2 linked regions of the Homo sapiens genome follow. The protein of the gene in region 1 interacts with the protein of each later gene in a biochemical or structural test. Each region holds a gene or a part of one and is shown in the gene's direction. Other genes may lie near its edges.

What was found.
Region 2: the proteins of NEDD4 (region 1) and FGFR1 form a complex in vitro, tested with the Homo sapiens proteins (2 studies listed by BioGRID and IntAct, with this or other methods).

Annotation. Positions count from the first base shown.
Region 1 is NC_000015.10:55,860,794-55,864,977, reverse strand, and holds part of NEDD4 (E3 ubiquitin-protein ligase NEDD4), read left to right. Parts: intron 1-1,898; coding exon 1,899-2,065; intron 2,066-4,184. UniProt on the Homo sapiens protein: E3 ubiquitin-protein ligase which accepts ubiquitin from an E2 ubiquitin-conjugating enzyme in the form of a thioester and then directly transfers the ubiquitin to targeted substrates. Specifically ubiquitinates 'Lys-63' in target proteins.
Region 2 is NC_000008.11:38,458,482-38,462,135, reverse strand, and holds part of FGFR1 (fibroblast growth factor receptor 1 isoform 1 precursor), read left to right. Parts: intron 1-880; exon of another isoform or gene 881-1,029; coding exon of another isoform or gene 1,030-1,040; intron 1,041-3,654. UniProt on the Homo sapiens protein: Tyrosine-protein kinase that acts as a cell-surface receptor for fibroblast growth factors and plays an essential role in the regulation of embryonic development, cell proliferation, differentiation and migration.

The DNA of each region.
Region 1 (4,184 bases):
GACCCCCTCACCTCAGCTTCCCAAAGTGCTGAGATTGCAGGCATGAACCACTGTGCCTGGCCGGAATTCCTATAAAGTTGAGTTTCTTTCTGGGCAAATCTATTGAGCTGCCTGTCGATGCATGCACCAGAACCACACAGCTTTAATTGTTGTCATTTATAATGTGTTTTTATCTGGTAGGGTTGATCTTCACTTCTTGCTTTTCTTTTTAAAAATTGTGCTGCTTATTCCTGCTTGTTTATGTTTCTGTTGAACTTGAGAGTTGCCTCGTATCTTTTTTTTTTTTTTTTCTTATGAGACAGAGTTTCACTCTTGTTGTCCAGGCTGGAGTGCAATGGCGTGATTTCGGCTCACCATCACCTCCGCCTCTCGGGTTCAAGTGATTCTCCTGCCTCAGCCTCCCGAATAACTGGGATTTACAGGCATGCGCCACCACACCTGGCTAATTTTGTATTTTTAGTAGAGATGGGGTTTCTCCATGTTGGTCAGGCTGGTCTCAAACTCCCTACTTCAAGTGATCTGCCCGCCTCGGCCTCCCAAAGTGCTGGAATTATAGGCCTGAGCCACCGCACCTGGCCTATTTTTTTTTTTAATCATAATACAGTTTTGTTGGAATCTTGGCAAATTTATAGATTAACTTGGGAAGAATTGACACCTTTGTGAGACTGAGTCTTCCCAGCCAAGAACAGACTATGTCTTTCCCTTATTTAGGTCTTCTTTTGTGTCCTTTTGGGAGCATTTTAAAGTTTTCTTCACCAGTTTATTTCAGTTTCTAATGCTTTCCTAACCAATCAGTATTTAATAGAATCTTTGACCTACTGCCTTTTCTTTTGTGAGGTTTCTCATATAAAAGCATTAACTCTTGCTACTCTTTTCTATCAATTCCTTACTTTAACTGCCCTAAGGCTTTATGTTAATTTTGCCCCTTGTTAATCTCTGAGAAACCAAACTTCTCAGTGCATTTTTTAAAAATCTTTCTTTGGCTGTTTTATGACTTGATAAAATGCCTTGCCTTGGTCCAGAGGAGAAAGAGAGAAATCAGACAAGGGAATGAGAATGACTTTTCCATCACTAGAGAGTTCACTGTAGCAGTTATTTCTAAATCATTTGCCTTCCCCATCTTGCCCCTTTGTATATTTGACCTTTATCAAATGATTTTTTCCATGTGTCAGATAGTTATTGATTTCTACCGTAAGCAAGGTGCTTTCTCTGTAGGAAAGACAATGACCAATAAGAAATAATCCTTGCCCTTCATTCAGTTGATAATTTAGAGAACAGCCTAAGATTACACTAGTAGTTTAAACTATACTTCTCAATTTCTCAGTACTTTCCAACTTTCCGTGGTTGTTTATTTAAACGATTTTTTGTCCTTTTTTTCTATTAGATTTTTTAAAATTTTATTTTTGATTGACAATAATTGTATATATTTATGGAGGACAATGTGATGTTTTGATATATACTTACAATGCAAAATGATTAAATCAGGCTAATTAATCTCATTAAATCACCTCACATACTTTTATTACTTTTTTGTTATGAAAATTTTAAATAGATTTGTTTTAAAGTTCTGTTTTATTGTTGTTTTGAGATGGGATCTGGTTCTGTCACCCAGGAAGAACCTGGTGGAAACTTTACAGGCTTGTGCCTTTAAAGTTTTTTTTGAAAAATTTTTAGACAATTTTAAACAAAATTTAAATGGTTATCATTTTTGCAAAAAGAGTCTTCATTATCATAAAGTATTTACATTATGGTCTTAAAAGTTGAGGATTGTTTATTCTGTCTATGCATAATTTCTAAAACTTGATATAATAAATCTCTTTTTAAATTTCCTTTAGCATATAATTTAGAAAGTTAAAAAAATCATGCGTAAACTTAATTGCTGCCATCCTGTTTTTCAGCCTGGCTGGGTTGTTTTGGACCAACCAGATGCTGCTTGCCATTTGCAGCAACAACAAGAACCTTCTCCTCTACCTCCAGGGTGGGAAGAGAGGCAGGATATCCTTGGAAGGACCTATTATGTAAACCATGAATCTAGAAGAACACAGTGGAAAAGACCAACCCCTCAGTATGTGCTGATGGCTTTCACAATTTTAATCTGGAAACACTTTAACTACGAATTTTCATTTTGAAGTCATGTCTCAGATGGATTCATAACAGTATAGTGATCCATAAACTATAAGAATACTAGGATTTTTATTGCCCAGGACTTTAAAAATCCTAACTCTGCTGTTTCGTTTTTTAAATGACTTGATAATATTCAAAATTACTTGACTCTAGATACTACCCTTTTAATTGCGTCTTAATTTTAATAGGTTTTTAATTTTATGTAGCCACAAATGGTAGATTTTTATTTTTAGGCTGAATTAGAAGTCTTGGAGAATTCTTGTAGTTTGTTATTAAAATGTAATAAAATGTTAATTTCTATAGTACTCTATTTTTAAAATATAAATTATTTGTAAAATATAAAGGACTCAATAATAAGGGTATTACGTTAAACGCGCATTTGACAGTCTGGTCAATGTCCACATAACTTCCAGCACGCACAGATCAAGGACGGAATGACTTTCAACATATTCTAACTTCTGTCTCCTCAGTGATTTTTTTTATTATTAGACTGTATATACATTTATAAAATCTCCCATTATTCATATTTATTCTCAAATCCCCTTCCATTTTTCCTTCCATATAGTCTTATAAAGTCTTCCTTTAGTCTTCTGTTTGAAACATACTCGTAATTTTTTAATGTGTTCATTAGCCTCCTAATTTTTGGCTATGATATTTTGTGCCTGATATATGCCAAGCACTTTTACAGATATTTTCTGTTCTCAAATCCTTCCAAAACAAATCAGCAATTCAAGTACTTCATGGCACAGAAGCTTCAGTCTTCATAGAGTGACGTACAGACTGCAAAGCTGAAGACACTATAAAATTCTGTAGAATTGCGCTGTTGCATACCTCAGTATTATGGCAAGCCTTACATGAGCAAAATCACAGTTCTTTCACTGTGGCTGATGTCATTTTCAGGTAGCCAAAATCATATATTTAGGGGGAAAAAAACTGAAGCATTCCCTTAGAGCCATGTATCAAAATTATGTTTTCTTTAGCTACGGTACAGTAAGAACTGGTCTTCTGACTAGCCTGAGCTCATGTCGCATTAAATAAACAGTAATTTTATTATTAAATATTTGAACAAAATTCTTGATCTGATAGACTGGTTATATTAAATGCAAATAATTAGAATAATATAAATGACTGGGGTAAGGGTGTTCAATCTGATTTTTTTTAATTTTAATTTCTGTGGGTCCCTAGTAGGTATATATGTTTGTGGGGTACATGAGAGGTTTTGATACAGGCATGCAAGGCATAATAATCACATCATGTAAAATGGGGTATCCATCCTCACAAGCCTTTATCCTTTTTGTTACAAACAATCCAATTATAGTCTTCTGGTTGTTTTTAAATGTACAATTAAATTATTATTGACTGTAGTCACCTGTTAAGCTATTAAATACTAGGTCTTATTCATTCTTTCTGTTTTTTTTAATACTCATTAACCGTCCAATCTGATTTATTGTACCTCTCCTAAGCTCAGACAAATCTTTACTATTACCTTTTTCAGGACAGGCCCATGACTGTATATTACGAAAAACAGATACCATTACTAATAGATATGTAATTCCTAAACCATTAAGCTTTTCATTATAAAGTTCTTACACCATCTTTCATTCTGCCCTTCACATTCATGCATGGAGTACTCTACTCCTGGCTTAAGACCAATTCTAGAAAATGTACTATCTGATTCACAAAGATGTATGTATGTGTAACTCTATTACTCTTATAATAACATGGCAAAATAATACAATGAAATAATCTATGAAGCGCTCTGATATTTATTCATTCAACAAATATTTTTGAGTACCTATATGTGTTGGACATTATCCTAGACATAGTGACAAACTAAAATATCAAATCAGACATGTTATACCTTTTCACAAAACCTTAAACTCCGTAAGGTACTCTAAATATACCAGTCTGCCTACCCATGATTGAATCTTTGCATGTTGAAATAGCCTTTGGTCAAAGACAATAAATTTTTTTATTGATGTAATGTAGATTTTTTTCCCAATGATCACAGAATCTTTGACAATCATTTTAACTACTTAAGACATGGATGATGGCTTTTT
Region 2 (3,654 bases), on another chromosome or scaffold:
TATAGAAATTATTGATGAGATACTTTACATTTTTTTCATAACAAGTTTTTAAGATGCGGTGTATACTTTTTACTTATAGCATATCCGTTAGCACCAGCCACATTTCAAGTGTGCAGTGGCCACTGTGTGGGCCACAGGTCTAGAATATAAGACATGAAGATGGAGAGTGAGAAATGCCTTTGGAAAGGTTGGAAGTTCCTGTCCTTCTGCTGCCAATTACCAAATCTCCTGAGAGTGCTATTAAGGAGTGACTCAAAGCACTACACAAAGAGAATTATAAATATCTTAATATTATATCTGAAATCCAAATGCATAATTCTTTACATTTGGTTGGTACTTTAGAGAGGAGAGAATGGGCACAGTCACCCACACCACCCATTTGAGCCTCATAATCACCTGTGATGTGGCTTCCTCTAGGTGGGAAACCGAGGCTTAGAACGGTTAAGTGACTATCCCAGGGTGGCAAGATCATAAGTGGAAGGGTGTGAATTCATACTGTCTCCAGCGGACAAGAATAAAAAGACCCAGGCTGGGTGTGGTGGCTCATGCCTGTAATCCCAGCACTTTGGGAGGCCACTGTAGGTGGATCTCCTGAGCCCAGGAGTTCATTACCAGCATGGGCAACATGGTGAGACCCCATTTTTATTAAATATACAGAAAATTAGCCCAGCTTCTCGGGAGGCTGAGGTGGGAGGATCACTTGAGTCTGGGGGATGGAGGTTGTAGTGAGTTGAGATCGTGCCACTGCACTCTAGCTTGGGTGACAGAGCAACACTCTGTCTCAGAAAGAATAAAAAGATTTGGCCATGAATTCGTCAGCTAGTTTTCCTTACATAATTTTTGGACAAGGAGATCTGACATTCATAGGTTTTTCTCTTAGAAGTGGGAGAGCTTCAAGGTCACGTGGTCCGTCCAGCCCCTGCTATCTCACCAGACACTGTCCACCCTGTATGTTGGATCAGTACTCCAGTGAGAAGACAGCAGGCACTTTCACCCATGCAGCCCATTCAGTCTTCATAACCACCTGTGATGGAGGCAAGGCAAGTATTTCAGCCCCCTCTGATGAGTGGGAAACTGAGATGTGCCCCCTCTCTGCTCCCCACCGAGGACCTCTGCATGCAGGCATGAATCCCAGGAGCCTAGCTGATATTGGAGAGACGGGGCGGGGGGAACCAGCTGCAGGGTCTTGGAGGAAGCTGCTGTGTACACCTGCAAGGCTGCAGGTTACATCTATCTGTCAAGCAGTGAAGGAAGGAAGTTGTTTCTAAGGGATTGGAAAAATTCATTAATTAGTAGAATGAGAAACTGAGGTGAAGCAGGAGGTGGCAGGGTCCCAGACAGCATGTTGGACTAGTGGCCTGTGTCACTGTGTTTTTTGCAGGCGGGTGGCATGGGGTGTATGCTGACTTCTTATTCCAGGAGTTGGTGCCAGGAGGCCAGGTTTTCTTAACATCCTTGTTTTACAGATGTCAAACTTGAGGGCCAGAGGGGTAGGAGAGGAAGAGACTTTTTGTACCTTTTTTGGGAAAGAACAAGAGGGAAGCTGGCAGATGAATTTGAAGTGCATTGACCAGGGAGCTGAGAGAGGGCGGTCTGCAGCCAGCCCACACCTGGGAGGAGGCGGCAGGCTTTTCTGGGGACAGAGTGGCCAAGTCGAAGCAAGCTTAACCATCTCAACATGACACCACTCTTTCCCATTGGAACCTGAGAACTTGTTCAGTATTCTGACACTTAGCAAGGGACCTGGGTTTTCTTGGTCAGGTGTGCGTTTCTGGGTGACAGGCCTGCATCAGGTGTATTTTCGGGATGTAGTAAGTTGTGGAATATGGGTTTAGGGGCATCCTCTGGCAAGCACTGCTTCTATCCCAGCTCTGGGAATGTGCCCCATGCAGTGTCCTAGATGGCCCATCTGTGGTCTGCTTCCAAGGGTCTTTCTTTTAGTTAGTTAGTTTTGAGACAGAGTCTCACTCCGTCACCCAGGCTGGAGTGCAGTGATGCAATCTCGGCTCACTGCAACCTCCACCTCCCAAATTCAAGCAATTCTCATGCGTTAGCCTCCTGAGTAGCTGGGATTACAGGCGTGCACCACCACACCCAGCTAATTTTTGTATTTTTAGTAGACGAGGAATTTCACCATGTTGGCCAGTCTGGTCTCAACTCCCCACCTCAGGTGATACTCCCGCCTCAGCCTCCCAAAGTCCCGGGATTGTAGGTATGAGCCAACATGCCCTGGCACAAGGGTCTATCTTTGACCAATGGAACTGCAAATCAAGCCTCTTTTGTTACCAGAGTTACCTTGGATTTACCCTTATCTACTTGGTTTGGATAAATTGAGTTTGCATCAGATGGAGTCAGGCTTGATCAATCCCTTATTTACTTCCTCCCACCCTGTTCTCTAATATCCAAAAACCTTGAGGCACTATTACATGCTAGCTACATTTCCTTGAGTAAAGTACTTAACCTCTTTGAGCCTCAGTTTCTCCATTGCATAAAAGGAATAATAAAACTTATCCCCCATAAGTTTATAGTGAGGAATGAATTAATTCCTCACTATAGTTCTAAATTAATTCTACTTAGGGCATCCTTGGTACATAGTGGGTGTTCAGTATTCATTTCATTTTCTCTTTTCTGATTCCTTTCGTAAAAGTAGAAAAATGAAAGAGAAATGTTGACTTCTCTTTTGATTTGAAATCATTAAAACATTTTAGTAAGCCTTGGGAGGGAGCTAGTGGTGTGGCATGTGTATCCCGCTGGCCAAGCACATGTGAACGAAGCCAAGAATCCAGGGGCTTTTCTGCCAGCCAGCACTGACTCACTTGCGAGGGGCCCTGCCTGGCTCGGGGGAGGCAGGGCTGAAGTACCACATTAGGGCATGTTCCGGGGAAGTAGATTCTCTGAATAACTTGGATGGCTCCCTGGAGCATTTAGGACAGAAGCCACCTGGAAAATAGAGATGGTCACCCCCACGTAGCCTTGACAGTGCCCAGAAAGTCTTGTCACTTGGTAAATGTTAACAGCTATGATCCGTTCTTTAAGACCCTGGGGAGTTTTAAGTTTTACCCCACCAGACCTGAGAAGGGTAAAGGGCTGCAGATTCTGTTCTTTTAACTGGGGCCAGTGTGAGCCATCTTTGACTCAGTGCTTGCAATAGACCTTGATTCTGCAGTGGGACCTCCCAGGCCCCCTTGCCCCCCGCAACTTCTGGACTCATATCCGTCAGACATCACTTGTCACCTTCCAGCATCAGGGAGAACTGGATCCCTCCTGGCTCCACACTCTTAGGCTCTTTGTAAGTAGCTGGTGAGGGTTTTCTTCTCTCTGCAAGGGAGGCTGGTAGAACTATGGATGTGATTCGTACAATTTTAGAGACAAAAAGAAAGTACCCAGGAGGTCATTTATTTCAGCTGCTTCATTGCATAGGTCGGGGAGTTGAGCATGGAGTCCAGCAGCTACTAACTAGTTATCTCTGTACCTGGCTTCCATTTACTGGTCCTTAGCTTGTTCCGTGATTCTTCATTGCCCCTTATTTCTCACCAGAGGGACTGGTTGGCCCTAGATGGAGTGGTCTTTTTAAAATTTTTTTTTTAAATTTTTTGAGACAGAGTCTCACTCTGTCACCTAGGCTGTAGTGCAGTGCTGCGATCTCGGCTCACT